4 separate regions of the Homo sapiens genome follow, and regions 1, 2 and 4 are each linked to region 3. Evidence: fine-mapped expression QTL. A gene starts in region 3. Each other region holds a variant in brackets. All regions are shown on one strand. Distances are between the middles of the regions.

Region 1 (8,107 bases), 29 kb after region 3:
GTCACAAAAACATCACCAAACTTTTAATAAAGACCAAAACATTTCTAATATTAAACATTGAAATAAATGTGAGTTATGCATACATTTAAGAAACAGTAACAAAAACAAGTGAGATAATTATTCACTCAATGATTTCAGTTCAAGGGTATGGGTGGCCAGAGCCTATGCAGCTCAGGATGCAAGGCAGACACTGACACCAGACAGGACGTCATCCCAGAGCAGGGGGCATTCACACACGCGCACACACACGCACACGCACACACACACAGTTACTCAGACTGGGACCATTTGGACATGCCAATTTACATAACATGCAGTACGTGTTTGGGATGTGGGGGGAACCAGAGTATCCAGAGAAAACCCATGCAGACTTGGGGAGGATGTGCTAACTCCCACACAGTGGTCCTGGATGGGAATCTGTTGTTTTTCTCATCAACATTATAACAACATGTTGTGGAATGAAAGGATGTTGTTGGAGGACCTGCTATATAAGTCATTTCAGTAGCAGTCTTGGGAGAAATTTGTGGGGACCCACTGGGGAGACAGAATCAGAAAATGTGCATTCTAAAAACGTGCGTATACTGAAATGAACTTGTGATGCCTAGATGAACTTGTGATGCCGAAAACTGATTTCCTGCTAGTGCAGTTGTATCTCTTTTTGAAGAAGAGAAACTGTTTTGCTTAGACATTTTTTTTGTAGGAGTATGGGAAGAAAAATTACTCACTGAAGCTAGTGCGAGTCAAGGGTAGAGGGAGGGCAGTTCCTGTAAGGATGTGTATAAATGGATTTCCAGGAAACTAAACTGCCGCATGTCAGGAAGAGCGGCTACCTGAAGGTGCTTGTAGATCCAAAGCTGCCCTAGGTTCCCCATCAGCACTGATTCATGAGTTTTGCATCTAGTTTCTCCTGTCCTTACCACAACTTGGCTGTTCTGTCTTCTCTGCACTAAACAACTTCTTCACTCTCTATTCCATATGTTTTAAACTTATCTTACTATTTTTGTTCCCTCATACCTTGCTTCATAGATTACCCAATCCAACAAGAAACAAAAGAGAGAAAGAAAGAAAAGTGAGAGGAAAGAAAGAGAGAGAAAGAAAGAGAGAAACAAAACGAAAGTATATTCCTGAACCACACAAAAAGACAAAGAATCACATTCTCTACAAGTGTCCTGTGTTTTTGCAAATTAACCGGTACTTCAGGTAGTCCTTAGGTATTCTAGAGTTTAGAAGAATCCTAAAAGGTTTTGCTCTGGCAAGGGCTGTGAGTAAAGCATGGCCTTTGAGGCGATGGAGGGAGAAAGATATATAGAAACTTTATTTTAGAGAAAGGAAAAACTTCTTCAGACCAGATGCAGAATCAAGTAATCAACCATTCAAAGTCAGGCTTAATTTAAGAGCTTTTTTTAAAAAAAACAGACAAACAACAACAACAAAAATGTATACTAGTGATCTTTAAAGGAAACCATGCTATCATTTAGATTATTATTCTGGATTCCAGTCAGTAGTTAGGTCATATAAGAATTATAAATTCTGTTATTGGTAATTGATAGTTCAAAATGCATAGTCTCACCACTCAGGGAAAACAGCACTTAGATTTCAGAAGATAAAACTTTGTAAGTGGGGATGAAAGGAGGGCATGGAGGGTGTTCTTAAATATTTAAATGGATGTTCATGAGACAAAAGGACTAGACCTGGAAGTTATTACATTTAATTCTCATAGCAATTGATAAGGAAAGTATTTCCATCTGATAGGTGATAAAACCAAATTCACAGAAGTTCAATTCATTCATTTTATAAGTATTTATTAATAATTTTTAATATGCTTGGCATTGTAATTAGCACTGGTTATTATACTATAATGAACAAAACAGGACCTTGTCATTTTAATGGAGATGACAGGTTAGGGGGACAGCAGAGAAATGACAAGTGAATCAACAAATAAGGATACTATTAAAACACGAGATTTTAGCACAAGGAAATAATATAGAATAATATAAAATATAGCATGCAATGAAAGAGGATAACTTGAAAAGGATACCAGTTACTTGGATTTTGTTAGGGAAGGCTTCGCTGAGGTGGTGACTTTTAATCAGAGACCTTCAAGGAGAGAATAATCCAGCCATGGAGGAGACAAGGGAAGAGTGGTTTTTAGCAAATTAATTGCAAATGTGAAAGCTCTAAGGCAGAAAAGTCATTAATATTTTACAGGGTGCGGTGGCACATGTCTGTAATCCCAGCACTTTGGGAGGCTGAGGCAGGCAGATCACCTGAGGTCAGGAGTTCAAGACCAGCCTGGCCAACATAGTGAAACCCCATCTCTACTGAAAATATGAAAATTAGCCGGGCATAGTGGCATGTGCCTGTACTCCCAGCTACTCAGGAGGCTGAGGCAGGAGAATCACTTGAACCTAGGAGGTGGAGGTTACAGGGAGCAGAGATTGCGCCACTGCACTCTAGCTTGGTTGACACAGTGAGACTTCATCTAAAAAAAATATATATATATATGTATATATTTTAGAGCAGTGTTACTCCCAATATGGTCTGAGGATGGTTGCCCATCCAAGAAGTGTTCTTTACTAGTCTGAAGTAAAATAAGTACATAACTGAGAAAAAATGCTTACACTCTATGATAAGAATTTGACAGTAATTTTATATCTGTTAAATCTGATAATTTAAAAATGAATTATGTTATTTTATGTCATTTTTCTAGTAATTCGTTTTTACTATTGAAATTGAAAAATATTGAGCCATGTTGGGAGAAGATGGTCTTTCCATGGTCCATTGATATCTGATGTTAGAAATATTGGGCAGGATCTAAAATGTGCAGAACTTTGCAGGTTCTGGTAAACAATTACCTAAGATTACACAGAGAGTGAGAGGTGGTGCCAAGATAAAATTCCAAGTCTTTTACTTCATCGTCTATGTGCCTTGAGAGGTTTCCAGGCTCCCAGTATGTGCCAGAAAGCCACTAGCCCTTGGAAAGGCCTCTACTTCGTGACCATTTCTACCCTGACATCCAGTGAGTTATTATCCATCAGAAACAAAGCTTACAAATAGAATACATTTTGATCATTTGGAATTTTTGAACATATTCCTTTACTTGTAGTCTTAGGTGATTTTCTAAACCATTATTTCCTAGGATTACGTATGCCCTTTTATTTTTGCTTCAGTTTTGTTTTTGTTTTTGGTTGTTGTTGTTTTGTTGTTTTTAGAGATAGTGTCTTGCTATATTGCCTGGGGCTGGAGTGCGGTGGTGAGATCATAGCTCACTGCAGCCCCAATCTCCTGAGCTCAAGTTATCCTCACGCCTCAGCCTCCTGAGTAGCTGGGACTACAGGTGCATGCCACCATGTCCAGCTATTTTTTTTTTTATTTTTATTTTTTGTAGAGACAAGGTCTTACTATGTTGCCCAGACTGGTCTTGAACTTCTGGGCTCAAATGATCCTCCCGCCTCGGCCTCCTAAAACACTGGGCTTACAGCCACAAGCCACTGCATCCAGCCTACTTTTGTTCTTGTAAAGAGTCATAGTCCCCTCACACCATACTGGGTCAGAAATGTCTACTTCTTTATCTTTGCCAATGAATATACACTAGAATAACTCTGTGTTTCTTAATCTCTCTATTATTTATCTTCTTAAAATGTATTATGATAGAATTTACAAGTGTCCAAAGTTAATACCTTGTTTTTCTTTTATCCAGAGCCCTAAATAAGTCACACAGCACCCTGAAAGTGATTCCCTGGTCTACTTGAATTTGACACAAGAGAAAAGCAGGAGGAAAAGGGGCCATTCTCCAAAGGACCTGAAAGAGCAAAAGAGGTGGGAGCGAAAGCCTTAAGGATCCCACGACTTTTTACTGCCATCTGAGCTACTCAGTGTTTGAATCCCAAGAGGAAGTCAGTTTACCTCTCAGGTCTGTTGTAGGACTTGATTTTGTAAAGCAATGCCATGTTATGTGGTTGAAAGGGCACTGGACTTAGTTAGTATCAGGAGCACTGAGCTCACAGACTGACTTGGGCTCCTACTGGTGGGGACCTCTGTTAGTCACTTTACCTCATCCAAAGTATAAAGGAATTGGACCAAATAATTTACCACATAGCTCTAAAACTTAATTTAAAATGTAATTCCAGAAAAAAAAAGGGAATAAGCAAAGGGGGAAGAATTGAAAGAGAGAGAGAAGAAAGAATACAGAGAGCTTACCTTTTGCCTTTCTGTTGATGTTACATCTCTTCTTCCTATGTTCTTAGGTCTATGAGTCTGTTTCCCCATCATTTGGTATCTAGTCCAGTTCCTGCTTACTGCTTTGCTAATAGCTGGCCTTGCTAGAATCCTTGGTTTCACTGCTGTTCTTCATGTGCTTCTATGAGATTTACTCCAACACAAATAGGACTGAATTTATTGTGAAGTAACATTGGCAATCTTAACTTATTCATTTAACTTATTTTTATAGCTAGATAAATATTGTTAGTCTTAGACAATAGCTCACATTTTTTGAGAAGCATGCCCTCCCTGTCCATTTGTCTTATAACATGACCCAGCCCTATTTTACGTCATTCTAAATTCAGCCTCATATAATGAAAATACATTATGAAAACAGATGTTTAGGAGATTTCCTGTATAGCAGTCAGCCAATTCATATGCTTTGTCTCTGCTGGCTTCTTTTTCCAT[G/A]CGTTAACTTTTCCCAATAGCAGAGGAGGCAAATATGAGCATACAATCCCTTTGTTCTAAAGATATTGTTCCAGCTAGTGGAATGATGTTGAATCTTTAATAACCATAATTAGTTGCTTTTTCAGTATCTTCTGCTTTGTCTGTGTCTATCCAGTGGCCTAGGAATTAAAGTGTAAGTTGTTTTCGCTGTTAAATTGGATATTTATATATATATATAGCAAGATTTTCATGTGTTATTTAATTCTGTATTGTTTCTTATATTTGTAGTAAAATATTGAACAATTAAAAGTGTTGACTCCAAATATTTGGCTTATGATATTCTCTTGGGAAATGTGGAAATGAATGATAATCCTTGTCTTTTCCCATCATATGTAAAACCCTCCCCTCCTCTCTATCTTTCCCCTCCTAAAAGATGAGCTGGGCTGGGCGCGGTGGCTCAAGCCTGCAATCCCAGTACTTTGGGAGGCCGAGGCGGGCGGATCTCGAGGTCAGGAGATCGAGACCATCCTGGCTAACACGGTGAAACCCCGTCTCTACTAAAAATACAAAAAATTAGCCGGGCGCCTATAGTCCCAGCTACTCGGGAGGCTGAGGCAGGAGAATGGCGTGAACCCAGGAGGCGGAGCTTGCAGTGAGCCGAGATAGCGCCACTGCACTCCAGCCTGGGCAACAGAGCGAGACTCGGTCTCAAAAAAAAAAAAAAAAAAAAAAAGATAAGCTGGTGTTTCTGACTAATCACAAAAACACAAATCAGATGTCTGGCCGGTGTGAGCTCCTTTGAGTTGGTGCCTATGTCCTTTTGACATGACCCTGTCAGTTCTGCAGCACTTCTTTATATGTGTTCTTTTGATTTTGCTTTTAGATACCAACCTTTGCAGACAGATTAGCTCACATAGTTTTGAATTTAGTGGGAACCAACCCCTTGTATTTTGCTGTATTTCTAGTATCTCTGCTAAATTGGTACTAGATCAGGCAGGATGACTTAATGCAACAGTTCTTAAACATTTTGGTCTTAGGACCCCTTTATGCATTTGAAAACATCATTGAGGATCCCAAAGAGCTTTTTCTGTAATGTGAATTATATCTGTTGATATTTATCATATTTGAAATTAAAACTGATAAAATTTAAATACAAAAATGTGTAACCATATATCCTATTAGCCATCAGAGTGATGCCAACATCAAACATCATATAGCTTCTGGAAGACTTCAGAGCACATTTATTAGAGAATGAGAGTGAAAAAGTCAAATAATTTATTGGTGTTATCATGACAATAATTTTTTGATTATGTGGACCCCCTGAGATGGTCTTAGGGACAATGCTAAAGACTACTGTTTTAAAGTATTGGCAAAGAAGAAAACCACCTTATGGGAAGATTTCATGAGTCTTTCTCAAAGGAACTCCTTGCTAAACATCTATCTTCATGGTACCTAAGCATTTCACCTTTTAACCAGGACTTTAGGCCATTGTATTACTGGGAGCTCCTCCTCAAAATGCAGAGAAAGCTCAAAGACTAATTTTTATCTATTGTTAATAATTCAATTTAAATTGGCTTATTAAATGGCTTTTCAGTTACTTTTCAGGATGTTGAGATACTTGGACTTAGGATAGGTATGTTTTATGGGGAAGACTTGGGAGGTTATAGAGAAATAAAGGGGAGAAGGAAAGGGTAATTGAGAGCATGCCTCTCTGCTGAGAAGGTGGCTCCATGTGGAACACCACAGCCTTGCTTTCTCCTCTATGTCTCCTGCCCTCTCACCCTGGCTGGCTGCTCACCAACCCTTCCATACTTATCCTAAACTTTCAACTATGGGTGCTTTTTTGTATTTGTGAATTAGAAAGAGGTAGCTTGGGCTTTGCATATTTAAGCAGATTGGGAAAGTTGTAAACTTTTGAGTCCCTTAGAATAACTCAGTCATGTATTTCTCTTCTTAGTAAAAATTCAGAAAAATTCCAGAGTAGTGCAAACCTGCTTAGAGAGAGGAGAAAACAGAAGAAGACTGTTGTGTTTAACTGAAACTGAAACTGCAAATGAAGGGGTTTTTTTGTCATTTTATGTTTTCTTTTTGGTTTGTATTCCTCAATCCGTGCCTTGATAACAATTCATAAATCTAGGTTCAAAGAGTACAAAATCCATATTACTACTAGGAATCATAAGGCTTTGATTAAAATAATTTTTTTGAACTTTCTTCTATGGCTATTCTGAGCTCAGAAAGAGTATTTTATTTAATTTTTGTTGTAGAGACAGGGTCTCACTGTGTCACCCAGGCTGGAGTGCAGTGGTGCCATCATAGCTCACTGCAGCCTTGAAATCCTGGGTTCAAGCGATCCTCCTGCCTCATACTCCTGAGTAGCTAGGACTACAGGCACACATCACCATGCCTAGCTAACTTTTTATTTTTTGTTGAGATAAGGTCTCACTATGATGCCCAGGCTTGTCTCAAATTCCTGGCTTCAAGAAATCCTCCTGTCTGGGATTAAAGAGGTGAGTGACTTTGCTCGGCCTTTGCCTTTTAAAATAAAGCTTCTTAAATTATTTCTTCACAGCGGTGATATTTTTATTTTTTGTTTGTTCTCAAAATATTCCAGATTTGATTTCATCCTTCCCTCCACAGTTGCTCAGGCTAATAATTCACTTGCACAAAGTCACATAGAGCAGTGACTCAATCCAAGCAAACCAACATTTACACAGATGTCATAATCATTTGTCTTGTGAGGTCCTGAAGGTAATTAACCCCATTTTTGTAGGTGTGAAAAATCATACTTTTCAGTGACTTCATACTTTTCAGTGACTTTCATACTTTTCAGCGACTTTCTTCCAGTAGCATTGTAAATGTGTTTTTGGCCAAAACTCCAACTCAGAAATCCCAGCTTCCTGTCTAGTGAACTCTCTTTTCTGCCCACCCTGCAGTGATTTATCTCAATCTTACTTGCCAGCGTAACCTATTTGTTCTGTACTTATATTCAGAATCCAGCTCCTACCTCCATTCTTACACCTGACCCAAACCATTATTATTTGTTTCCTAGATCATTGTTATTGCTTTCTAATTAATCTTCATGCTTCCGTGTTCTTCCTCTTTCAGTCTATTCGAAACATAACTGTTCTAAAATATGTCAAGTCAAATCACATAATTCTCCTGCCTAAAATTTCCAAGTGCTTCCCATCTCACCTAGAATACAAGCCAAAGTCTTTACGTGGGCTATAAGGCTCTAGACAATGGGCTCACTGATAATCTCTGAAGTCACCTCCTACTCTCTCTCCTGATCACTAGTCTGCCGGCTATTTCACCAACATTTCAGACATGTTTCCATCTCAGAGCCTTGGCATTTCCTCTTCTCTCTGCCTGGAATGTTCTTTCTGCAGGTACCTGCATGGCTCATATGACTTTTCCCCTGAAAAACACTCCATAGATACCCCAAAGATACTTTAATACTTTT
Region 2 (8,109 bases), 42 kb after region 3:
TATACTCTATGATGTTTGCCCAATGACAAAATCACCTAACGACACATTTCTCAGAGCACATCTCCAATATTAAGTAATGTGTGACTATAAATGACTAATTTTCCTTCTTGCCTTGATGGTCAAGAAGCCAACGTCCGATTAAGATGCTTCTTGCTGATTATTAAAAATAATACATGCTCATTATAAAAAATTGTTAAGTACAGAAGAATAAAAATAAAGGAAGTAGAGACATAAAAAATATTAGTCCATTACACCACCATCCAGAAAAGCCACCATTAATTTGTTTTAAGAGCCAAATATGGTACTCAGTCAATGGAATTTATTTACCATTATGGTTGGTACATGATTGCTCACCTTTTCTTGGTTCCAATATTCCCAGGTGACTACTTTTTAAGTATATATATTTTGAAACTGCTTCGAGTTACTTTGGTGAAAATAAGGGGCAATCAAAATTAATCCTTAAATGAACAAATATAGTGGAAAATATGAGGCAAGCATTTCCAAGTCTGGGTTTCCTGACATAATATCTACCCAACTATGTGATTATGAGGATTCATCAGATGAGTCCCTGGTTACACATAGAAAACTGTAAAGTGCTATAAAATAATAATAATTAAAACAGCTAACATTATTGATCACTTTACTATTTTACCAGATGCAGTGTTTATTGCTGTTCATACTGTGTCAATTAATATCCATGACATCTCTATAAAAAGGTACCCTTATTTCATTTACAAAGAAACAGCAATAACAAACCCTAGATGCTCGGGAAGGCTAAGTAATTTCTTCAGTTATAAAGCTAGATATTACTAGATGAAAAGAATTTTGATGTGTTAGAAATTTTTGAAGTGATTTTAATTAAAACCTCTTTGCGAATGTCTCCAGGAAGTAATACCTGAAGTCCAGCCTTTAGTCATTAAACAGTCCACTTCACTAGTTTGTAAGGTAATGAAAGAGTAGATTGAGGTCATGTTTGGGGTTAGTAGTATAGCTACGTAGAAATATCATTCCTCTATTAGAAGAAACAAATAAAAGTGAGAAGGACACCTAACTGACATATTCAAAAGTTTGATGGTGAGCAATGAAGCACAGAGAATAAATGAAGAATCCACTTCAGAGAACTGAAGAAGGAGGGAATGGAGTGAAAAGAGAACTGCTTCTATCCTGAGATAGACTCAGGAGGTAAGAACTACTGGCTTAATCACATGGTTGAGCATTCATTCCAACTAATATTTATTGAGCATCAATTATGAGAAAGGTATTCTGCTTGGCTCTATTGATATAAAATAAATAAGACAAGATGCTTTCTCTAGAGATGCTGTGGGAAGTCGTCATATAAACTGTGACAATGTTGGACTACAGGATGACAAATATTCCAGGCAGAGAGATCAGCATATGCAGAGGCAGGAGGTGTGGAACACCAAGTGAGGCTAAGGAAGGGAAGCATTAGGCTGGACGTTAGGGTGGGCAGCAGAGAAAGGAACATGCAATGTACTGGAAACATAGGCTGGGTTCACACCACAGAAGGCTGTTCCAATATAGGAAGTGTGCCTTTGCATTTTGACCCTGACACTAAAAGGATGTGCGATCTAATGTTAGATGAATTCAATTGAATTGGTGAATATTTCCCTCAGTCAGATATCTGACTCCGTAGACTCAGGTTTATTCTAAAGACAGAAATTTGATATATTTCATTCTGGTCAATGGCAGGCTATATCAAAGGAATAAACAAGGAAATTTCTTGGTTTTGCCATTGTTTCATAGCACAAAGGGGACAGAGGAATTGGGTGATATATTCAGTTTCTGTAATTTTTGTTTTATTTTATTTTTTGTTTATTTTATTTTTTGTTATATATTTATTTATTTTTATTTTATTATATTTTATACTCAGGGGTACATATGCATGTTTGATACACAGATATATTATGTACTATTGGGGATTGGACTTCTAGTGTACCCACTATCCAAATAGTGGATTTCCTGTTATTTTTTTCCACATTGAATCGTATATGGGCCCCCATCAGATAATAGTAAAATCATTGAGCTAAGAGGCCTCAGAACTATCATGTCTGACCCCTATATTTTACAGATGAAGAAATACATTTTACTCAAGATTACACACACAGATAATGATGCAACTTTGGTTTTGGCTGAAAGGTCTTCATGGGTGGTTTCATTCAGAGCTGTCAGGAAAGGAAGCAAAAATTCTGAAAGAGTATGAGGTGGAATATTGAATTTCATTGCTTCATAAATCAGTCTAGATTGTTGTGTTCCTTATTCAGCTGTTCATGGGAATTCCCACTGAGGCAGTTGAAATAGTTGAGAGACAGGTGACTATGCAACAGGACTACATACACCGAAAGAATGGTCAGTTGCCCATACAACTTAATTTAATCCTGAGGACCAGTATCTTCAGGCCTTTCTCAAGCCTAGGTTTATATATACTAATTCTGTTTGATGATATACTGTCATTGGGAACGCCCGACTTTATGCCTGGGTGGATCAATCACACAGTTCATAATTATGGGCAAAAAGTAACTTGGTATCCCAATGATCAAGGACTTCCAGGGCTCAATTGTAAGCCAAAAGCTGTTTCTCAAAAGGAAATAATTTCGTTTTTCTGAAAATGTGTATGGCTTCACTCCAAAACCGAGCTTTGAACTGTAATTCTTTTTTTCTTTTCTTTTCTTTCTTTTTTTTTTTTTTTGATGGAGTCTTGCTCTGTTTCCCAGGCTGGAGTGTAGTGGCACAATCTTGGCTCACCTCAACCTCCACCTCCCGGGTTCAAGCAATTCTCCTACCTCAGCCTCCCAAGTAACTGGGATTACGGGTGCCCACCAACACACCCAGGTAATTTTTTTTTTTTTTTTGGTAGAGACAGGGTTTCACCATGTTGGCCAGGCTGGTCTCAAACTCTTGACCTCAGGTGATCCGCCCACCTCGGCCTCCCAAAGTGCTGGGAATACAGGCGTGAGCCACCACACCAGCCAAATTGTAATTCTTCTGTTGTGACTTGCCCCAGGCTCCTTGCAGCATCCTATTTGACAGTTTGAGCACAATCACATCTACCCATGCACCCTCTTTCATGGGATCCATAGATCGTCTCCCTGTCTCTGCTCTGTTCCTTCTCTCTCCCCACACGTGTGCTGATTCACTTTACCCAAAAGCTTGAGATTTTAGCATTTTGTAAAATAAGAATAAGTTACTATTCTTTTTCCCTCGCCACATCCTTTTCCTGAGGCAGTGAGCAAAAAGACCCCACCTGTTATAACGCACAAAAGGGAAATGGTAATGAATAGGAAGTAAAAATAGACGCTAACATTGTAATATTATTTTGGCACATGCCTGGAACATTGTAGAGCTTCAGTAACATCAGCCATTTTTTCCTTAATATGAACAAGAGGAAATCTAACAGCTTCTTCAACCATTGAAAAAGCAGTTCTATGAAAGAGAAAATAGATGTGTTCATTGGAGGTGGTAGTGGGTTGAATTGTATCCCCCCAAATATAGGTCTACATCCTAATCCCCAGAACCTATGAATATGATATTATTTCATAAGTGAGTCTGTGCAGATATAATTTAAGAGTCTAGACATGAGATCATTCTGGATTATCTGGGCATGCCCTAAATCCAGTAAAAAGTGTCCTTATACGAGACATACAGAGGACAGGAGAAGGCAATGTGACCACAGAAGCAAAAATTAGAGTGATGTGGCCACACGCTGAGGAACATCTGGAGCCATCAAAAGCTGGAGGAGGTAAGAACAGACTGCCCCTAGAGCCTTTGGATGGAATGTAGTTCTGCAAACACCTTGCTTTTAGAACTGTGAGAGAATAAATTTCTATCATTTTCAGCCACCATATTTGTGGTCATTTGTTATGGCAGCCATAGGAAACTAACACAAAGATCCAGAGAGCAGGACCAGAACCAAAACAGAAAAAGTGAAAGATAAACTTTCCTATTATTGAATCTGCTCAAGAGTGTGAGAGACTGAGTTATGAAATAGTTGGCTTCAGTAATTGGAGTTGGGTTTCAGTGGTTCAATGGTCAAAAGGGAGAGAGGCTGGTGACAGGGCGAGATCTTATCTCTTAAAAAAAGGGAGGAAGAGAGTTTATTGGGTGGAACTGGAAATTTTTATAAACTCATGCTCTTATTTATTCAGATTTACATATTCCCGACCATAGTTTTTTGGAAGC[G/A]CATCTCAGGAATTCCCAGATTTTACTCATGCTGTTGCCCATAACCTACGGTGTGGTTAAGAATAATACAATTGGTCCAAACAGGAAGATTAGTTTCCAGGGAAGGAATAAGTCACTGTTGATTATGCCAGGAAAATAGGCTGGAATCATCAGGCAGAGCTTCGCATCTGTACAGCTATCTCCCTGCAGCTGATTTATCTAATGCTTTCTATGATTGCAGACGAACAGACTTTCCGATGGACAAATAAAGAAGCTGCCTTATTTATATTAATATAACCTCTTTCTTTGAACCTCTAGCCTGCCTGGGACACAAAATCACATAGTTTCAAATGACATTAAAGTTAGCTAAGCAATTTTTCTTGCCATTGAGAGAGTAGAAAATTAATACTTTGAATCCAGTTAGGTTACCCTGTTAGATGACTGTTTGGAATCCACAGGTAGGAGTTCTTAACCTGGGCTCAGGGGCATACATAAGGGGACAACTCCACGGTCCCCTTGAAATTCTAAGCAATTTTTTGCTTTCTAGAAGGACTCTAGTGACCTCCATATCACTAAGTTTAATGATTTTTCTTTACCTCTTCTGTACATGTCTCACATTAGACTCTTTCTTGAAATTCATTGTCATCTGTAATATGATGTGCCCTTGATTTTCTCATCTTTCCAGCCCAACCTCCTGTACTTAATTTTTAAATTTTGCAATTCTCGAAAACTTGGATAGAGGCTGTCTTGTTTGCTCATAGTGTACTCTTTCCCTGTGTGATCTCATCCATGCCATGTCTTCAGTTATGATCTATACACTCACAAGTCCAAAATTACTACTTCTAACTCCTTGGAGCTCAGATATATGTATCCAGCTGTCTACAAAACATCTCCACTGGCTGACTTACAGGCAACTCAAACTGAACAGGTCCAAAGCTGAACTCCTGGTCTTTCCCAGTCCCATAACTGGTCCTCCTCCAGTTTTCTCTATTACAGTGAAACAGGAGAGTTCCCTGATCCCCCTCGAAGGACATATGATGGGTGTGGCTCGCCTGTTCAGTCACCAGCACTCCTCAAACCCCTTAGGGGAGGGGGAGCACACAGACAGGCAGGTGAAGGAGCCTAAGTGGAGTGTGTTACAATGTGCCCTTTTAGCCTTGCCATCCACGAATGGCTTGGGTGTTAATCAGCTCAGTGGACTCTCTGCCTTTCTGCAAGGGCAGAGGGGCAGTTCAACAGCTTTCTGTGTCCTGAGCTCTTGCCCAGCATCTTGGAAAAATCAGGTCACACACGGGCTTGAAGGATGAATGAGAGGTTTTATTGAGTGGTAGAGGTGGCTCTCAGTGGGATGGATGGGGAACAAGAAGCAGGGAATGGAGTGGGAAGAAGATCTTCCCTGGATTTTGGCCATCTTGTGGCTGAACCCTTCTCTGACCACCCCAGCTGGAAATCTCTCAGTGTTCAGACATTCCTCTTCTTTTCTCTTTCTCTATTGCACCATTTTGCAATCCATCTGCTTGTCTCCTCATCTTCTCATCTGCTTCTGGAGCCTGGGGCTTATATGAATACAGGATAGAGGGCATGGTGGGCCAAAAGGCAACTTCTTCACATGAAAACAGAAATGCCTGTCCCCATTTAGGACCACAGGACTTCAGGCTTGAGATAGGGGCCTTTGCCAGGGAACCACCCTCTTCTACCTAGTGTTTCCCTGTTTCCTGTCCATATCAACAGGGGATGGTGTCATCATCCATTTGGGCACAGGGTTCACTAGAGGGACAGGACTAATAGGATAGATGTATATATGAAGGGGAGTTTATTAACAAGTATTGACTCATGCGATCACAAGTTGAAGTCCCACAGTAGGCTGTCTGCAAGCTGAGGAGCAGGGAAGTCAGTCCAAGTCCAAAAACCTCAAAAGTAGGGAAGCTGACAGTGCAGCCTTCAGTCTGTGGCCAAAGGCCCAAGAGCCCTTGACAAACCACCGGTATAAGTCTCACAGTCCAAAAGCTTTAGAACTTGGTGTCTGATATTCAAGGGCAGGAAGCATCCAGCACGGGAGAAAGATAAAGACCGGAAGACTCAGCAAGTCGGCTCCTCCCACCTTCTTCTGCCTGCTTTATTCTAGTCTTTCTGGCAGCTGATTAGATTGCACCCACTCAGATTGAGGGTGGTCTGCCTCTCTCAGCCCACTGATTCAAATTTTAATCTCCTTTGGCAGCACCCTCACAAACACATCCAGGAACAGTACTTTGCACTTTTCAATTCCATCAAGTTGACACTCAATATTAACCATCATACACACAAGCCAGAAATCTGGCAGGAATGCATAATACTTCCCCATTTGTTTCCATTTGATGAAATAGGACTTTGATCAAAGCCTTATTACTGTAACATCCTAAATATAAAATATACATCTCTGCATCTCTACTGCTACTGCCTTTATTCTAGACATTATCATTGCTTGTCTGAAATATTGCCAATCCATTCTTTACAACACACCCAAGTAATCTTTCTAAATTCTGATAATGATGTTACGTAACTCTGATTCATATTCTCCAATGGCTTCCACTGTTCTTAAGATAGCTAAGATCTGTAACAGGGTCAACAATCTGGCCTCTAGCCACTTTATCAGCTTCATTTGATACTACTTCCTCTGACTCTGTGCAATTCACCCATGATGACTGTGTCAGTTATCTAATGCCATGACTGTGTTATAAACCACCACCAAATCTCTGGGGCATATCACCACCATGTATCACTCATGTATCTAGGATTCTACTGGGGATTTGGGGATGAGAGGTTGGTCACAGAAAGCAAATTATCTCTACTTCATGTTTCTGCCCTCCTCCTGCTTTTTGAGCAACTTGGCAGAACTATGTTGACATCAATTTCTTTTGGAATTGTCAACACAAAAAAGATTTTACAGAATCAAATTTTAGAAAATAACTGCAAAATAAAACAAATTTTTTAAGGAGAGAGGAAGGAGATGATGCATTTGCTATCTCTTTATGAGCCAGATACTGTGCTATGAACTCAACTTATATGGCTTTATCTTTGCAATGAATCTACAATATTGTACCACTATTCACATTTTACAGGGGAGGAAACTAAAGGTCAGTAGGATTAAATAAATGCAGTTCTCAAATTTCACAGTTTGACTTTGATATAACCCACATTTTCAGTTTTCCTTTACTTGTTCTTTGTTATGCTTTTCAATCTCATGTTGAAATTTGATCCTTAATGTTGGAGGTGGGGCCGAATGGGAGGTGTTTCGGTCATGGGGGCAGATCCCTCGTGAATAGATTAATGTCCTCCCTTGGGGGTGAGTGAATTCTCACTATATTAGTTTCTGAGAGAGCTAGTTGTTAAAATGAGCCTGGAATCTGCCCCCTTCTCTTGCTTCCTCTGTCGCTATGTGATCTCTGCACACATCATCACCCCTTCACTTTCTGTCATGAGTGGAGGCAGCCTAAGGCCCTCACCACATGTGGGTGCCCAATCATGAATTTTCCAGCAATCAGAATTGTGAGCCAAATAAACCTTTTTTCCTTCCTAAACTACCCAACTTCAGGCATTCCTTTATAGCAACACAAAATGAACTAAGATATTCTTTACCATATTTTAAAATGTGGTAGTAAAATTAGACATGATTAAGAGACCACAGTCTTAGCAGGATATTCCAAGAATGGACACCTTTGCTTGAACTCCACTGAGGCCCAAGGCCACTCTACTGGAACATATGCATTTACTTCTTTTCTTTGTCTCTATGGTACACTTTTCTTTTCTACCTTCTCTTCTCCTTTTCTCTCTTTTTTTAATGTCCAGACTCCACTTTATATCACAGGTCTCCCAGACATTGCCGAGGAGGCTATAGTCCATTAAGTACCTGTCTTCCAAACTGTCAGAAATGCTGAGAATTCTCTACTGGGCTTA
Region 3 (8,099 bases):
GACCTCAAATGATCCTCCTGCCTCGGCCTCCCAAAGTGCTGGAATTACAGGGGTGAGCCACCGCACCCAGCCAGAAATTTTTTATATCTTAGATCCTTTACATACTAGATATAGATTACTTCTCCCTGTTTGGCATCACTCTATTACATTTTTCAGTTATACTGTTAGGGGAACAGAAGTATTTAATGGAAAACCAAAAGTCCACTTTTTGTGGATAAAAAGTAGATGGATTTAACAATGTTAAGTCAAACTATAAGTTGTTAATAAGTTTGAGTTTGGGGCATTGATGTCTTTATAGTGGAATTTCCTTCAGCCATAAATATATTATCCATTTATTCAAGTCTTTCTAAATGTCTTTTAGGAAGGCTTTACAATTTTCTCAATGTAGGTGTAATTTTTGCTAGGTTAATTCTTTGGTACTTTTAATTTATTCACTATAATTAATGATATTTTAAAAAATTTCTAGCTGGTTATTATTAGTGGTTTAGGAACATTTTTGGATTTTTTAAGTTAACCAATATTTGGAAACTGTGCTAAACTCTGTATTTAAGTTTTTCTGTTGATTTTGATTGTTTTTCATGAAGTTGATTCTCTCTCTTACAACTAATGACAGTTTTGCTTCTTTCTTTCCAATCGACACCTCTTTTTATATTTAATACCTGCAATAACAGTTATCTTTTTCTTGTTTCCGATTTAAAAGACCATGTCTAAAATTTCCTTACAGTTGAATATGACATTTACTGCAGTTTGATCACTAAGCATAAGGTTAGGAAATATTTTCTTATTCTTATCTCCTTTGCTTTTATGATAAATATGTTGTTGAACTTAAGAAAAAATTTATTGGTACTTGTTGAGATAATCATGAATTTTTCATAGCAATTTACTAATATAATAAATTATACTGACAGTTTTCTAATGTTAAGCCATTTTGGAAATTGTTCTGCTTTATATTTATAAGTAAAAGAGGACTATAATTTTATTTTCTTGGATTATCCTTTCCTGGCTTTAAAATTAAAATAACACTAGCCTCAAAGAAAGATCTTAGTAATTTTATAATTCTCCCTTTTGAACATGAATAAGATAGATCTATTCCTCAACAATCCTCTAGGTCTGTTATTTATTTATTTATTTTGCAAAACAAGTCTTTGATTTTGATTTACTTGCTTACTAATTTATTGGCCTATTTAATTTTTAAATTTTTATGGCCAATTTGCCACTTTCAGAAATTTATTCATTTTGTGTAAGTTTTCATATTACTGTTCACAATATTGTTTTGTTATTTTTGCTATTTGTTGCATCAGTATTAATTCTCCCTTTTCATTCTATATTGTTACTCTGTATTACAGTAATAATTTTCTGAGTATTACAGAAATAATTTTCTGAGTATTACATGCCACCCGTTTGATCAATTAATCTCTAAAAAAATTATATTTATTCTATTTGTGTTCGTTTTTATTGATTTCTGCCTTTAGTTTTATTATTTTTTTTCTTCTCATTTTGTTGAGTTCCTTGTTTGCTTCTTTTGCTCAATATTGACATCTGATATAGTTAAGGTGATATATTAATTCTGAATGCTCCTTTAAATCTGTCCAATAATTTTAAATGTCATTTTTTTCTTTTTCCTGCAGACCTTTCTTTAAAAAAAATTATGTAAGCAAATTTCTTCTTTTTCAAAGGGTTTTTAATACAATGTTTATGCTTCATTATGGCTGGGAGTTTTTCCCCTTTTGTTCACTCTTCTGTGTCCCAAGTCTCTTTTAACCTAAAAATGTTGTTTTTAAGCTATTTTTTTTTTTGAAATAGTGTTTCACTGCATCACCCAGGCTAGAGTGCAGTGTCTCCATCATGGCTCACTTCAGCCTCAACCTCCCGAGCTTAAGCAATCCTCCCATCTCAGCCTCCTGATTAGCTGGGACTACAGACATGTGCCACCATGTTCAGGTAATTTATTTTTATTTTTTGGTAGAGACAGGGGTCTCACTATGTTGCCCAGTATGATCTTGAACTCCTGGCCTCAATCATTATGAAACTGGTTGCTTAACTATATAATTTGAATCTGGATTTTAAAATAATAAATGTAAGATTTTATTTTTAAAAAATTAGAAAATAAGATTATGAGAGGTGAGGAGAATTATGCTAAGGTATACGTGTTGGGAAATTTAAGAAATTGACTTAAAAAAATAAATATATGCATTGTCCTTAGTAAGTTAGGAGAAAACAGCAGAATAATAAAATATAACTCTTAATGTAGCAAGATAATATTTAGCTTAATGAAAGATAAGACAGAAGAAAATATACTAAAATAAAATATAAAAAAATTAAAAGTCCTATTATATCAGTAATTACAACATACAAATAGGTTAAGGCCGGGTGCAGTGGCTCACAACTGTAATCCCAGTAGTTTGGGAGGCCAAGGTGGGAGAATTTTTTTTCCAAGTGTGCAGTTAATATTTCTCTAATAGAGGAAGGTTAAAAATAAAGTGATAGGAAAATATATGGGAAAAATAAATGTAATAGAATGATGTACATATGCTTGTGAAAAGACAGGTATAAGAATGTTTATAGCACCACTATGAAAAATGCTTCCAATTTGAAAAACAAAGAAATGTTAATTAATAGAAGAATAGATAAATAAATTGTAATAGACAGTATTTACAGAATAGGATACTATACATCAGTGAGAATGAATAAGCCACACTACAGGCAATAACATGGATGGATTTTTAAAATCTACTGTTGAGTAAAAAACCCAGAAACAAGTGAAGACATATGCTACGATGCCATTCATATAAAATTCAAAATCAGGTGAGCCTAGTCTATGGTGTTAGAAGTAGGAGAATAGGGGCCGGGCGCGGTGGCTCACGCCTGTAATTCCCACAACTTTGGGAGGCTGAGACGGGCGAATCATGAAGTCAGGAGATCGAGACCATCCTGGCTAAACGGTGAAACCCCGTCTCTACTAAAAATACAAAAAAAATTAGCCGGGCGTGGTGGCGGGCGCCTGTAGTCCCAGCTACTTCGGAGGCTGAGGCAGGAGAATGGCGTGAACCCAGGAGGCAGAGCTTGCAGTGAGCCGAGATCGCGCCACTGCACTCCAGCCTGGACGACAGAGCGAGACTCCGCCCCCGTCTCCCACCGCCCCCCCCCCAAAAAAAGAAGTGGGAGAATAGGTCAGGTGCAGTGGTTCATGCCTGTAATCCCACTGCTTTGGGAGGCAAAGGTAGAAGGAGCATTTGAGGCTAGGAATTTCAGGCCAGCCTGGGCAACACAAGACCCCGTGTCTGGAAAAAAAAAAAAAGCTGGACATAGTGGCTGCACAACTATCATTCTAGCTACTCTAGAGGCTGAGGTGAGAGGATCCCTTGAGCCCAGGAGTGAGTTATGATCGCACCACTGCATTCCAGCTTGGACAACAGAGCGAGACTTTGTCTGTAAAAAGAAGCAAAAACAAAACCCCAAAGCTTTGTCCCAGCTCCTTATGAGAGGGTGGTAGTAGTAAAACACAAAAGCCTTCAGGAGGTGAACACTTGATGATTTCTTTGTCCTTTTTTTTTTTTTTTTAAGAGCCAAGAACTCTGGAACAAGAAGAAGAAGACGAAGGAGGAGGAGGAGGGGGAGGGGGAGGAGGAGAAGGAGAAGGAGGAGAAGGAGAAGGAGAAGGAGACGGAGAAGGAGGAAGAGGAGGAGGAGGGCCGGGCGCAGTGGCTCACGCCTGTAATCCCAGCATTTTGGGAGGCCGAGGCGGGCGGATCACGAGGTCAAGAGACCGAGACCATCCTGGCTAACATGGTGAAACCCCGTCTCTACTAAAAATACAAAAAATTAGCCGGGCATGGTGGCGGGCGTCTGTAGTCCCAGCTACTCGGGAGGCTGAGGCAGGAGAATGGCGGGAACCCGGGAGGCGGAGCTTGTAGTGAGCCAAGATAGCGCCACTGCACTCCAGCCTGGACCACAGAGCGAGACTCCGTCTCAAGAAGAAGAAGAAGGAGAAGAAGGAGAAGGAGAAGGGAAAAAAGAATCCTCATCATTAATGCAAGTGGAAGGAAACTCTTCACCAAAGAATTGATCACATCATGAAAGGTGAAATCATTACGGAATTGCTTAAATATATAATTTGAATCTGGATTTAAAAATAATAAATGTAAGTTTTTTCTTTAAAAAAAAAAAAAAGTCCATTGGTTAAATTCAGCTTGAATCCTTTGCCACTACATCAAGAGCTAACAGGTCAACAACTGATCTCCACAACCTCCCACCTCATTTCCTTTCTCAGTCCAGGTAGCAGGAAAATGGAAAAAAAAAAATGATTTTTTTTTTCCAAACACTTTGTCAGTTTCCCCAGCGGTCACCTTTGAAAAGGGAAAAATGTCTGAAAATAGACAAAGCTGAATATAAACATCATTTAATTCCCCCCACACAGACAGCCTCCGCTCCTGTGAGGGCGTGGGGAAAACGGAGTGGGAGAAGGGGGCTAGCGAGGAGGAAGAGGCGGGAGGTGCGGCAGGGGCACAGGTGACGCTCCTCCCGCCTGCCTAGCAGAGCTCCAGGCGCACATCCGCAGTCAGCCACCTCGCGCGCGCCTCCAGGAGCAAGGATGGAGAGGCTGGTGAGCGGGGCCGGGGCTTGGGAAGGAGGGCGCAGGGCAGGCGATGTTGAGCCGGTGGCCCTGGGGCGGGCGGCGAGTGGAAGGCGCGGAGCTTCGGCTCTTGCCACAATCTGGTCCGGGGACTAGATCAGCGGTGTTGATGGCAGCGCTTTTCTCTAAGCGCTTTCTCTTGCTGAGAAACGGATTTTGCCTTCCAAAGGGTGGTTTACAGGCAGCTGCTGGCGTCCAGATTCTCCATTCCAATTGCCTGAAAAAAAGATGCACCAGGCCGGGGCTCCGGGGGCTCTTGATCCGCGCTGACGAAGCTGGCGCATCCTCCGGGCAGGCTCGGCTCGGCTCACTGGCTCCAGCTCCCAAAACTGGGGAGGCACAGCCTATTTTAAACTGCCCCCAAAAGGGAAAGAGAAATGCTGTATTGGTTCCATATTGGCACCAAAAGCTGCGGCGGAGATACAGATTTCCAGGCTCGCTTTCTCCGGGAGAGCTCCTGCGTCTCCTCTTTGTTATGCAGCCCCTTTCTCCCTCCTAGCCCTTGCCTGGGGGAAGCCATGAAGGATCAGTTAAAGCTGAAGCTACACTTGAGAGAGCTGAAATGCTCTGTGATCATAATGCTTTGAAGGGTTAACCCCGGGTATCTAGAGAAACAGACATTTTGTTTATTCGGAACCAGCTTACAAGACAAAAAACGGAGAAGGTTTTCATATATCCCATTGGTATATGAAATCCAAATACAATGGTATTGGTATAAGAATCCAAATACAGTGAATGCCTCAAGATAATTTTTTCATGTATGGTTTGTTGGCAAGACCACATAGCCAATGATTTCACTGTCTTTCTTAACAAAGGAGAATGGTGGTCTGTGAGCTACGGTCTACTGCAAGCTAGATGCTGTTAATCTTCTTTGTAACTATCCTTCTAAAAATGAATTATTACCTCGTTTTACACATAAACAGGCGGAAAGGCTGATATTTCCAAGTCCTTGTGACTACATGTGGGGTAATGTGGATTTGGACATAGAAACTTGCTGAGGAAGAGGCATGAATAGGGGCAATATAGCTACCAGGTGGGCAGCTGTCTGGTAAGACCCAGGTTTTTGTGAACCCTGGACTGCATGGCAAGGGTTATAAGTGGGCTTCTTTGTTTTCAGGACTGTAGTTCCCCCTATATGATTTGATCGATTAATTTTTTTAGCTACCTAACACGTATTGGCATTTACTATAACCTAGGCTCTATACTAAGTGCTTTAATTGCCTAATTCTCATAATAACTATGTGAGATAAGAGCAACATTTATTTAGTGCTTATTTCTACTGGCAGTATTCTAGGAGCTTTATATACTACTTCATTTAGTCTTTTTAACCATTAGATTGGTACTATTACTTTTCCGGAGTCTCAGAGAGGTAAAATGATTTCTTTTGCTCACAAATCTAGTATTTGTTTTAGCCCCGGTCACCTCCCTGTAAACATATAAATACTGTTGTTTTCAGATTGGTCGTATTTTCAGTTATTCTGCACAGACTCGAGGAAAAAAAAAACCTGTAAAATAAAAATACGTATCTATTTAAGAGTAAGGCTTTCCTTCTGATTTCCTTTGCCTCAATCACTGTGTTTTGTTTCTTAACATTGCTGGCTCCCAGTCCACAATATATGGTTTGGTATGTATCTGCTTTCTCTCTTGTCCTAAAACACAGATTTTCTCTATGAGAGCTTGTCCATTCTGCATTCTTCATCATGGCCTCTGGTAGAGCCTGGATTTCCACGTCAGAGAAGCCTAATGGTTTAAAAAATATCACATAGAATTGGAATGCCAGTATCTGTCTCCACAATTGCCTTAGCTGAAAATAAAACAAAATGTGTTGGGTGGGCACTGGCAATGGAGCCTGAGGAAATATTTGGCCTGATTTTTTCTGACTTTCCTAGATAATTAGATAGGATGGAACAGTCTCAGTAATACTGAGAAAATTATCGAGTTATATATTTTTTTTCACTTCAAAACCAAAGCCTTTGTGAGTATAATACCCAGCAGTGGATGGGCAGGGTGAGCAGATCTTTGTAGGCTGTATGTATTCAGGCAGCTGAACCATCTTGGGTTTCTCAAAGAGCAGTGACTATGTTATTAGTCTTAGACCTATGAAGACAGGAAGAGAAGTCACAAGGAAGGGATAGCATGCTTATGGTATGCTTGGGTATCGAATAATAAAATATATCTGCAAAGAATAATTTGTCCTAATGGCACCTTCAGATGATATAATCTTGAATTCTCTGTAGCCTTAGAGATGTAAGGAAAAAGCAACTTACATCACAAAGATCAGTATTACTGTGTACTATGATGCCACTGCATGGGGTCCAGGATGAGAGTCTAAGTGATTGGTTCTCTCTAGCTGAAGACAAGAAGACACTCAGGTATGTGGCAGCACTTGGGATAGGCCACAGGGCGGCGAGACATCATTCCTTCCAGGACATCTATCCTGAAAGATCCATCAGGAATACTGTGATGGAGATAGTGATGGAGACTCCTTGTCTCTGGCAGTTAGAGTGAATGCTGAAGAAGAGCCCTTTTCCAGCAGGCCAGTCTCTAACATGATCTTGGGTCTTCACCCAGACCATGACAGCTCTGGTGCTCAACACACACAACCACCTCCAGGGTACAAGTTGGCCCCAAGAGAGCTGAGACAATATTGGCTCTAATTTTTATCATCTCATTGATCTCAAACCACAGACTCTGACCAGGACAATTGGGGGCCCTCTCCTTACAGCTACACTCCTAGGAAAGACCACCATCAATGATTACCAGGTAATTTTCTACCCCTACCTATGAAGGGACTTGGTTAGTAACTTCTCTTGCTAGAGGAAAAATGAAGCTTATTATATAAGATTAATGTTTGTGAAACACCTGTTATTTGGAATTGGTTTGGTACTTCCTCTTGAAATTTCCCTCATTAAGTTTAGGTCGTGGCTGTTTCATAAGGAAAGAAAAGGGCATGTATTGACTGGAATTAAAATTAACAAATCCATTGAGTAGGAGGATATTAAAATTGAGTGGCTCCCATTGGACAGGAAAAGGAAGAGAAATCCTTGTGGCAGGTAAAGGAGGAGAGATTTAGATCCTTGAGAACTCCATTCCCGACCCGCTGCTCCTGAGCCCACAGGAAGAAGGCCATCACAAGACAATAAAAATCCCAGAGAAATTGAAAGGCAAACAGAAAGACCCAGCTTGGAGTGATAAGGAAAATGAATTCCAGCAGGGAAGTCATTGTATCTAAAAGGAATGGCAAAAATAGGGCTTAGTTAAGGCAAACACCGAGAATGAGGGGATGGGATTCCCACAGGTAGAACACCACCCTTTAGCAATGATCCTGACCCTAAAGCAAGGTCATTTAAGTGATTATGGGCCAATATTCTAGAAATAAGCTTCAAATTATAGTAGCAACAGATGGGGCTAAACAGGAGCCGATAAGAACATACAAACAACTTCAGAAAGGGATGCCCGTGATGGG
Region 4 (8,109 bases), 88 kb after region 3:
CTACTCTCACACCACAATAGTCATCAACACAGAAGACTTCTGTGACCATTTGTGTGGGATTCTTTTCCCCACACACCAAGCAGCAGACATCAGCTGTTAATTCCGTTCGACGCTACCCAAAGATAGTGTCATATCCCCCAAGTTGAGGGCTCAGTCCCCATGCCCTTCCCCCACCACACCAGTCTGGGCCTCTGTAACTTCTGACCAACCAGCTTCAAGTTGGGGTTCGTTCCCATGACCCTCTCTTTGAGTTCAATTAATTTGCTGAAGTGGCTCCGAAAATTCAAGGAAACACTTACTTACATTTACTGGTTTACTATAAAGGATATTGCAAAGAATAAAAATAAAGAGACATGTGGGATGAGGTGTAGGGGAAGGGGTGTGGAGCTTCCATGCCATCCCTAGGAACACCACCCTGCAGGTACCTCCATGTGTTCAGGTATCCAAGAACTCTCTGAACCATGTGCCCTTAGATTTTCATGATGTCAGCATTCCTTCCCCCAGGGTATAGGGTGGGACTCCCGTCATGGGAGGGCCGTAAGACCCACAATCAGAAAGTCAAGCTAAGATTAGAGTCTTGCTTTGGGTCAAGTGAAAGGAGGGCAGAAGAAGGTTAGAGGCCCACCCCTGAGGCCTAACATACCCAACATTGTAACAAAAGATTGTAACAAGGGCTTTGGGAGTTATGAGCCAGAATCCATCCATGAAAACCAATACACTTCATAACACCATGTGGGTACACACCCAGCAGCGGGATTCTTGCCATTCAGGTGACAGGTGACTTCCTATGTCCCCACAGAGGCCTTCCCTGACCACTCCATCTATAGGAACTACTGGTCACTCTCTGTTTCATCACTGAATGTATTGATTCATTGTCTCAATTTCACTACTGAATTTTATTTCTTCATCATTTATTTATCTATTTATTCCTTTCTGTTGTCTCCATGTCTGCCTCATAAGTGAGCCATGAAAGGGGAAACTAACTACCTTGTTCATTACTATATCCTCAGCACCTAGAACAATGCTTGGGACATAGTTGTCACTCAGGTAGTATTTGTTATATGAGTGAATGAATGAATTAATTAATTCTCTTTCATATTAATTGTAGTAGGAAGAAATTGTCAGAGTAGGCAGATAGCTAGACATAAGCAGCAAGAGGAGGGGAGCCACTGAGGAAAAGGGAAGTATGGAAAATCTCACACCCCAGGGACCACCCAAAACATGTAGGCTGGATATAAGCAAAGAGATGGGGAAATACTTATGTGGGAAGAATCGCCCCCTTAAGACACCCAGTAATCACCCACTCTGCAATTAACCTGTCGGAATGTAGCTAGCTACATGCTAATAAAGAGGGAAAGAGGGTGAAGGAGAAATTCCTAAGAGATATGCAGGCATAAAAAGTACAGATTTAACTGCCATACAGCCTTCCTGGGGTGATGGTAATGAGCAATGTAGCCATTAGGTAGAATTTGTGTCCAACACAAGGTCCACACATGCACGCCAACTAATAGACAGAATCCCACAAATCTGAGGCAGGAACTAGGCAGGGAAAAGGCAAGGACTTAAGGCAGCAGCAGGAAAAACTAGATGAAGGAAAAAGGTGGAGACTTAACACAGAGATGAGAACTTCAAGAAAAAATCCGTCATAAAAACCCAATGCAGAACTCTTGAGGCTACTGCTGGCTCATTCTCTGTTAGTAGCCCACTGTGCCTCATCTTTTGGAGTGTACTGTCTGTCTAAATAAACTCTGTGCTCTAATTTTGCTTCAATAAATTCTCTTTTTGGGCTAAGTGGTCTCTTGGTAGGATTCTTTCTTACAAGTAAGCCTAAGAACAGAGGACTCTGCTCTTCCCAGTAACAAAATCACATTAATTATTTCCATGAACTTGTCACCCAGGAGTATCTGGCTTCCCATCCCTGACACCTTTTAATCTCTCAAAAAACATTTGTCTGGGGTTATTCTACTCTTTTAATACTCCTATTAAACTCTACTATTAAAAAAACCAAACTTATTCATTTCATGCGCGTCCGTGTGAAGAGACCACCAAACAGGCTTTGTGTGAGCAACGTGGCTGTTTATTTCACCTGGGTGCAGGCGGGCTGAGTCCGAAAAGAGAGTCAGCGAAGGGAGATAAGGGTGGGGCCGTTTTATAGGATTTGGGTAGGTAAAGGAAAATTACAGTCAAAGAGGGTTTGTTCTCTGGCAGGCAGGAGTGGGGGTTGCAAGGTGCTCAGTGGGGGTGATTTTTGAGCCAGGATGAGCCAGGAAAAGGACTTTCACAAGGTAATGTCATCACTTAAAGCAAGGACCGGCCATTTACACTTCTTTTGTGGTGGAAGGTCATCAGTTAAGGTGGGGCAGAGCATATTCACTTCTTTTGTGATTCTTCAGTTACTTCAGGCCATCTGGGCATATACGTGCAAGTCACAGGGGATGCGATGGCTTGGCTTGGGCTCAGAGGCCTGACATTCCTGCCGTCTTATATTAATAAGAAAAATAAAACAAAATAGTGTTGAAGTGTTGGGGTGGCAAAAATTTTTGGGGGGTGATATGGAGAGAGAATGGGCGATGTTTCTCAGGGCTGCTTCGAGCGGGATTAGGGGCGGCGTGGGAACCTAGAGTGGGAGAGATTAAAATTTTAGTTTCCTGACTTGGGACATGTTGAATAAAGCTAATTTGCCAGTCCTGGGTGGGGGCAAATCCTCGAGCTTGATGTGTAAGGAAGGGAGGGGGCCTGAATAATCCCTGAGGAATAGTAGAACAGCAGATGGAACACTGAGAAATTATTTCCTTGAGGATAGATTTCCACGATGGAAAGGAAATGAGAGGTTCTGAGAGGCAGGCTAGTGGCTTGTACTATAGCATAGCCTGCCTTTGCTGGTGTGTGGCGATTAGGCCTGGTGGAACCACCATCAATAAATCAAGCGTGATCGGGGTGAGGAACAGGAAAGAAGGAAATATGGGGAAATGGGGTGAATGTCAGGTGGATCAGAGAGATAGTCATGGGGGTCAGGTGTGGTATCAGGAATAATGTGGGAGGCCAGATTGAAGTCTGGGCCAGGAACAACGGTAATTGTGGGAGACTCAACAAGGAGTGAGTACAGCTGAAGGAGCCGGGAAGCAGAAAGTATATGTGTCAGGTATGAGGAAGAAAATAGATTTTGGAAGTTATGAGAACTGTAGAGAGTGAGTTGAGCATAGTTTGTGATTTTGAGGGCCTCTAAAAGTATTAAAGCAGCGGCAGCCGCTGCACGCAGACATGAGGGCTAGGCTAAAACAGTAAGGTCAAGTTGTTTGGACAGAAAGGCTACAGAGTGTGGTCCTGGCTCTTGTGTAAGAATTCTGACCAC[G/A]CTAACCATGCCTAGGAAGGAAAGGAGTTGTTGTTTTGTAGAAGGTGCTGGGGTTTGAGAGATCAGTCGGACACGATTGGCAGGGAGAGCACGTATGTTTTTATGAGAATTATGCCGAGATAGGTAACAGATGAGGAAGAAATTTGGGCTTGATTGAAGTAATGGGGGCTGTCTGTGAAGCTTTGCGGCAGTACAGCCTAGGTAATTTGCTGAGCTTGATGGGTGTCAGGGTCAGTCCAAGTGAAAGCGAAGAGAGGCTGGGATTAAAGGTGCAAAGGAATAGTAAAGAAAGCATGTTTGAGATCTAGAACAGAATAATGGGTTGTAGAGGCAGGTATTGAGGATAGGAGAGTATATGGGTTTGGCAGCATGGGGTGGATAGGCAAAACAATTTGGTTGATAAGGCGCAGATCCTGAACTAACTTGTAAGGGTTGTCTGGTTTTAGGACAGGTAAAATGGGGGAATTGTAAGGAGAGTTTATAGGCTTTAAAAGGCCATACTGTAGCAGGCGAGTGATAACAGGCTTTAATCTTTTTAAAGCGTGCTGCGGGATGGGATATTGGCGTTGAGTGGGGTAAGGGTGATTAGGTTTTAATGAGATGGTAAGGGGTGCATGATTGGTCGCCAAGGAGGGAGTAGAGGTATCTTATACTTGTGGGTTAAGGTGGGGGGATAGAAGAGGAGGACGCAAAGGAGGCTTTGGATTGGGAAGAAGGGCGGCAATGAGATATAGCTGTAGTCCAGGATAGTCAGGGAAGCAGATAATTTAGTTAAAGTGTCTCAGCCTAATAAGGGAACTGGGCAGGTGGGGATAACTAAAAAGGAGTGCTTAAAAGAGTATTGTCTAAGTTGGCACCAGAGTTGGGGAGTTTTAAGAGGTTTAGAAGCCTGGCCGTCAATACCCACAACAGTTATGGAGGCAAGGGAAACAGGCCCTTGAAAAGAAGGTAATGGGGAGTGAGTAGCCTCCGTATTGATTAAGAAGGGGACGGGCTTACCTTCCACTGTGAGAGTTACCCGAAGCTCGGCATCCGTGATGGTCTAGGGGGCTCACGAGGCGATCGGGCAGTGTCAGTCTTCAGCCACTAAGCCGAGAAGATCTGGGAAGGAGTCAGTCAGAGAGCCTTGGGCCAGAGTTCCAGGGCCTCTGGGAGTGGCTGCCAGGTGAGTTGAACAGTCCGATTTTCAGTGGGGTCCCACACAGATGGGACGCGGCTTAGGAGGAATCCTGGGCTGCGGGCATTCCTTGGCCCAGTGGCCAGATTTCCGGCACGTGTAGCAAGCTCCTGGGGGAGGAGGTTCTGGAGGAACGCCTGGCCACTGCGGTTCAGGTGTTTGGAAGTTCTTGTGTGCTGGAGATGTGGCTGGGGTTTGTCTCACAGTGGAGGCAAGGAACATTGCAACTTTTTTCTATTATTGTACGCCTTGAAGGCGAGGTTAATTAAATCTTGTTGTGGGGTTTGAGGGCCGGAATTTAATTTTTGGAGTTTTAGTGTCAGGAGCAGATTGGGTAATAAAATGTATTTTGAGAATAAGACGGTCTTTTGCCTTTTAGGGTCTAGGACTGTAAAGTGTCTCAGGGTTGCTGCCAAACAAGTCATGAACTGGGCTGGATTTTTATATTTGATGAAAAAGAGCCTAAACGCTATCTGATTTGGGATAAAGAAAAAGGAGCATTAATCTTGACTATGCCTTTGGCTCCAGCCACCTTTTTAAGAGTAAATTGCTGGGCAGGTGGGGGAGGGCTAGTCACGGAACGAAACTGTAAGTCAGACCAGGTGTGAGGAGGGGAGGTGATAAAAAGATTATAGGGTGGAGGAGCAGAGGCTGAGGAAGAATTGAGACCTAGCTCAGCCTGGCGAGGAGCAGGCTGGGGAGGAAGGGAGAGGTCAGATGGGTCTGTAGAAAAGGAAGATTAGAAAGACTCAGCAACACTTGGGGTTGGTACTGAGCGGACAGGCGGGAGGGAAAGAAGGAAGATTTGGGACGAGTTGCACTGGGCACAGAGACTAGGATGGGACTGATGTGTAAAAGAATGCCTGGACGTCAGGCACCTCAGACCATTTGCCTATTTTACGACAAGAATTATTTAGATCTTGCAGGGTGGAAAAATTCAAAGTGCCATTTTCTGGCTATTTGGAACTACTGTCGAGTTTGTACTGGGGTCAAGTGGCATTGCAGAAGAAAATAAGGCATTTAGGTTTTAGGTCAGGTATGAGTTGAAGAGGTTTTAAGTTTTTGAGAACACAGGCCAAGGGAGTAGAAGGAGGAATGGAGGGTGGAAGTTTGCCCATAGTGAAGGAAGGAAGCCTAGAGAAAAGAGAGTAGAGAAATGGAGGGAAGGGGTTCGGGGGTTCTTACCTTCCAGAAAAGTGGGAAAAGGGGTTGGAGCACAGAGATAAGAGGTCAGGGCACAGAAATAAGGGATGGGGCGCAGAGATATGAGGTTGGGGTGTGGAAATAAGGGATTGGGGCACAGAGATAAGAGGTTGGGGTGCAGAAATAAGGGATTGGAGCACAGAGATAAGAGGTTGGGGTGCGGAAATAAGCGATTGGGGGGTTCTTGCCCCCTAGGAAAGCAGGACTTGCCGCTAAGGGTGAAGGAGAAGGGGTTGAGGGGTACTTGCCCCTGCCCCAGGAAAGCAGAGAAGGGGTAGAGACAAGGAGAGAAGGGGTTGAGGTACGTGCCCCTTCCCCAGAAAAGCGGGACTTGCCGTTAAGGGTGAAGGACCAAGGCAGGCGTCCCTGCGTGTTCTGACACCCTTGAAACGTGGGTGTATAATCAGAGAGGCATCCCTGCAATGATTAAACACCAAGGGAAGGCTGCCTTCCCAGTCTGTGACCGGCGCCGGAGTTTTGGGTCCACGGATAAAACGTGTCTCTTTTGTCTCTACCAGAAAATGAAAGGAATTGAAATTAAGAGAAGGGAGAGATTGAAGTGTAGCGCCAAGATTGAAAGGAGAAAGAGGTTGAGGGATAGTGAGGGAAGTTGGAGAAGAGAGTAAAAAGAGGCCGCTTACCGGATTTGAAATTGGTGAGATGTTTCTTGGGCTGGTCGATCTCAGGACCTGAGGTCGTAGGTGGATCTTTCTCACGGAGCAAAGAGCAGGAGGACGGGGGATTGATCTCCCAAGGGAGGTCCCCCGATCCGAGTCACGGCACCAAATTTCATGCGCGTCTGTGTGAAGAGACCACCAAACAGGCTTTGTGTGAGCAACATGGCTGTTTATTTCACCTGGGTGCAGGTGGGCTGAGTCCGAAAAGAGAGTCAGCGAAGGGAGATAGGGGTGGGGCCGTTTTATAGGATTTGGGTAGGTAAAGGAAAATTACAGTCAAAGAGGGTTTGTTCTCTGGTGGGCAGGAGTGGGGAGTCGCAAGGTGCTCAGTGGGGGTGCTTTTTGAGCCAGGATGAGCCAGGGAAAGGACTTTCACAAGGTAATGTCATCACTTAAGGCAAGGACCGGCCATTTACACTTCTTTTGTGGTGGAATGTCATCAGTTAAGGTGGGGCAGGGCATATTCACTTCTTTTGTGATTCTTCAGTTACTTCAGGCCATCTGGGCATATACGTGCAAGTCACAGGGGATGCGATGGCTTGGCTTGGGCTCAGAGGCCTGACAATTCACATATATAGCATTGATGATTCTAAAAGCCTTATTTGTTTATCTTTCACATTGATATGTAATTGTTCTGAAATTTATTTTTGTGAGGAAGAAGTTGATATGTGCTTTTTCCATGTGAATATCCAATGGTCCCATCCATTTCTCACTGCACCGCTATATCATATTTTTCATAAATCAGATGAATCTGCTTCTGAACTCTCTATTCTCTACCATTGGTAATTTTAATCTATATTTGAGCCACACTGTCTTAACTACTAAATATATATAAGAGTATAATTAACTATGGTTTTTAACAGATCTTTATGTTTAGTACAAGTCCTCTAGTTTTTTTTCTTCTTCTTCCTCAGGCTTGCCTTGCCCATTTCTAAACTTTTACATTTTCATATAAATTTCAGATTAATGTTATCCATTTCTGAAAAACAAAAACTCCTGCCAGTATCTGATTGAGATTGATTTAGTAGTTTAAATTAAAACTGTATGACAAAATATTTTGTAACCATTAAAATTATACACACAATGAATTTAGGAAAACTCAAGAAAAACATTTTTAGTAATATTAATAATAGCAACTAATATTATCCTAAGCATCATACATGAATAAATTTATTGAATTGTCATGATAACTATTTCAGAAATGTATTACCCTTACCATTTCCTAGTTGAAGAAATGACAGCTCAGATATATGATTTAGATTATGCAGTGTCACACAGTGAGTGACAGAGCTGAAAAATAAATCCTAGTCTGTACTCATGAAAAAGTCAAACTTTTAGTCACCTAGATTTTTAAAAAGCGTATTGAATGGAATTCTTCCTAAAATAAATTATAAACCTGTTTTGCCTTTTTGCAAACCTAAAGAATACAATCATATATTTTCATTTCCATTTCTGGTCATTATTATGAATATTAGTGATTTGCTTAAACCACAATACAGTGTTATCCTAGGGCTCTATTATCATACCTAGGATTATTTTCTGTTGCATTAAATTGTCTGAAAATAATGCAATCTTTCTTTTTTTAGCTTCTCTTTTGGACTTTTCTAACTTAAGTATGTTAACTTAACTCTTTCCACTTGTTTCTTGCTGTGTGTTTTTAAGTTGATTTAATAAACCATGTAATTCAAGCATTTTAATCT

Which allele goes with the higher level. Alleles are on the strand shown, and positions count from the first base shown. SD is a standard deviation of normalised expression in the study named. Not every link is listed here.
In carriers of allele A in region 4, the expression in neutrophils of the gene that starts at base 4,535 in region 3 tends to be higher than with G alone (large effect, 1.2 SD a copy in BLUEPRINT).

Evidence for each region. PIP is the estimated chance that this variant, and not a neighbour inherited with it, causes the effect.
Region 1: its variant is fine-mapped to the expression of CD200 in skeletal muscle (GTEx, PIP above 0.99).
Region 2: its variant is fine-mapped to the expression of CD200 in lung (GTEx, PIP 0.99).
Region 4: its variant is fine-mapped to the expression of CD200 in neutrophils (BLUEPRINT, PIP 0.95).

The regions. Positions count from the first base shown.
Region 1 is chr3:112,357,843-112,365,949 of GRCh38, forward strand. CD200 (CD200 molecule) reads left to right here. Exons shown (of 6, transcript NM_005944.7): 6 at 3,701-4,970. The coding sequence ends at 3,708. Among named protein-coding and RNA genes, the nearest start is that of CD200, 29 kb to the left of the region's middle. RefSeq lists an enhancer at 920-989. The variant G/A (reference allele first, on the strand shown) is at 4,669.
Region 2 is chr3:112,370,369-112,378,477 of GRCh38, forward strand. LOC105374041 (a long non-coding RNA gene) reads right to left here. Exons shown (of 4, transcript XR_924334.3): 4 at 5,473-5,732. Among named protein-coding and RNA genes, the nearest start is that of CD200, 41 kb to the left of the region's middle. The variant G/A (reference allele first, on the strand shown) is at 4,198.
Region 3 is chr3:112,328,622-112,336,720 of GRCh38, forward strand. CD200 (CD200 molecule) reads left to right here and starts at 4,535. Exons shown (of 6, transcript NM_005944.7): 1 at 4,535-4,603. The coding sequence starts at 4,592. It overlaps LOC105374042 (a long non-coding RNA gene), which reads left to right. Exons shown (of 5, transcript NR_147411.1): 4 at 725-765; 5 at 3,565-4,133. RefSeq lists enhancers at 4,202-5,159, 5,160-6,116, 6,613-7,372.
Region 4 is chr3:112,416,393-112,424,501 of GRCh38, forward strand. No RefSeq gene overlaps it. Among named protein-coding and RNA genes, the nearest start is that of BTLA, 79 kb to the right of the region's middle. RefSeq lists enhancers at 382-1,235, 1,236-2,089, 2,090-2,943, 6,360-7,212. The variant G/A (reference allele first, on the strand shown) is at 3,353.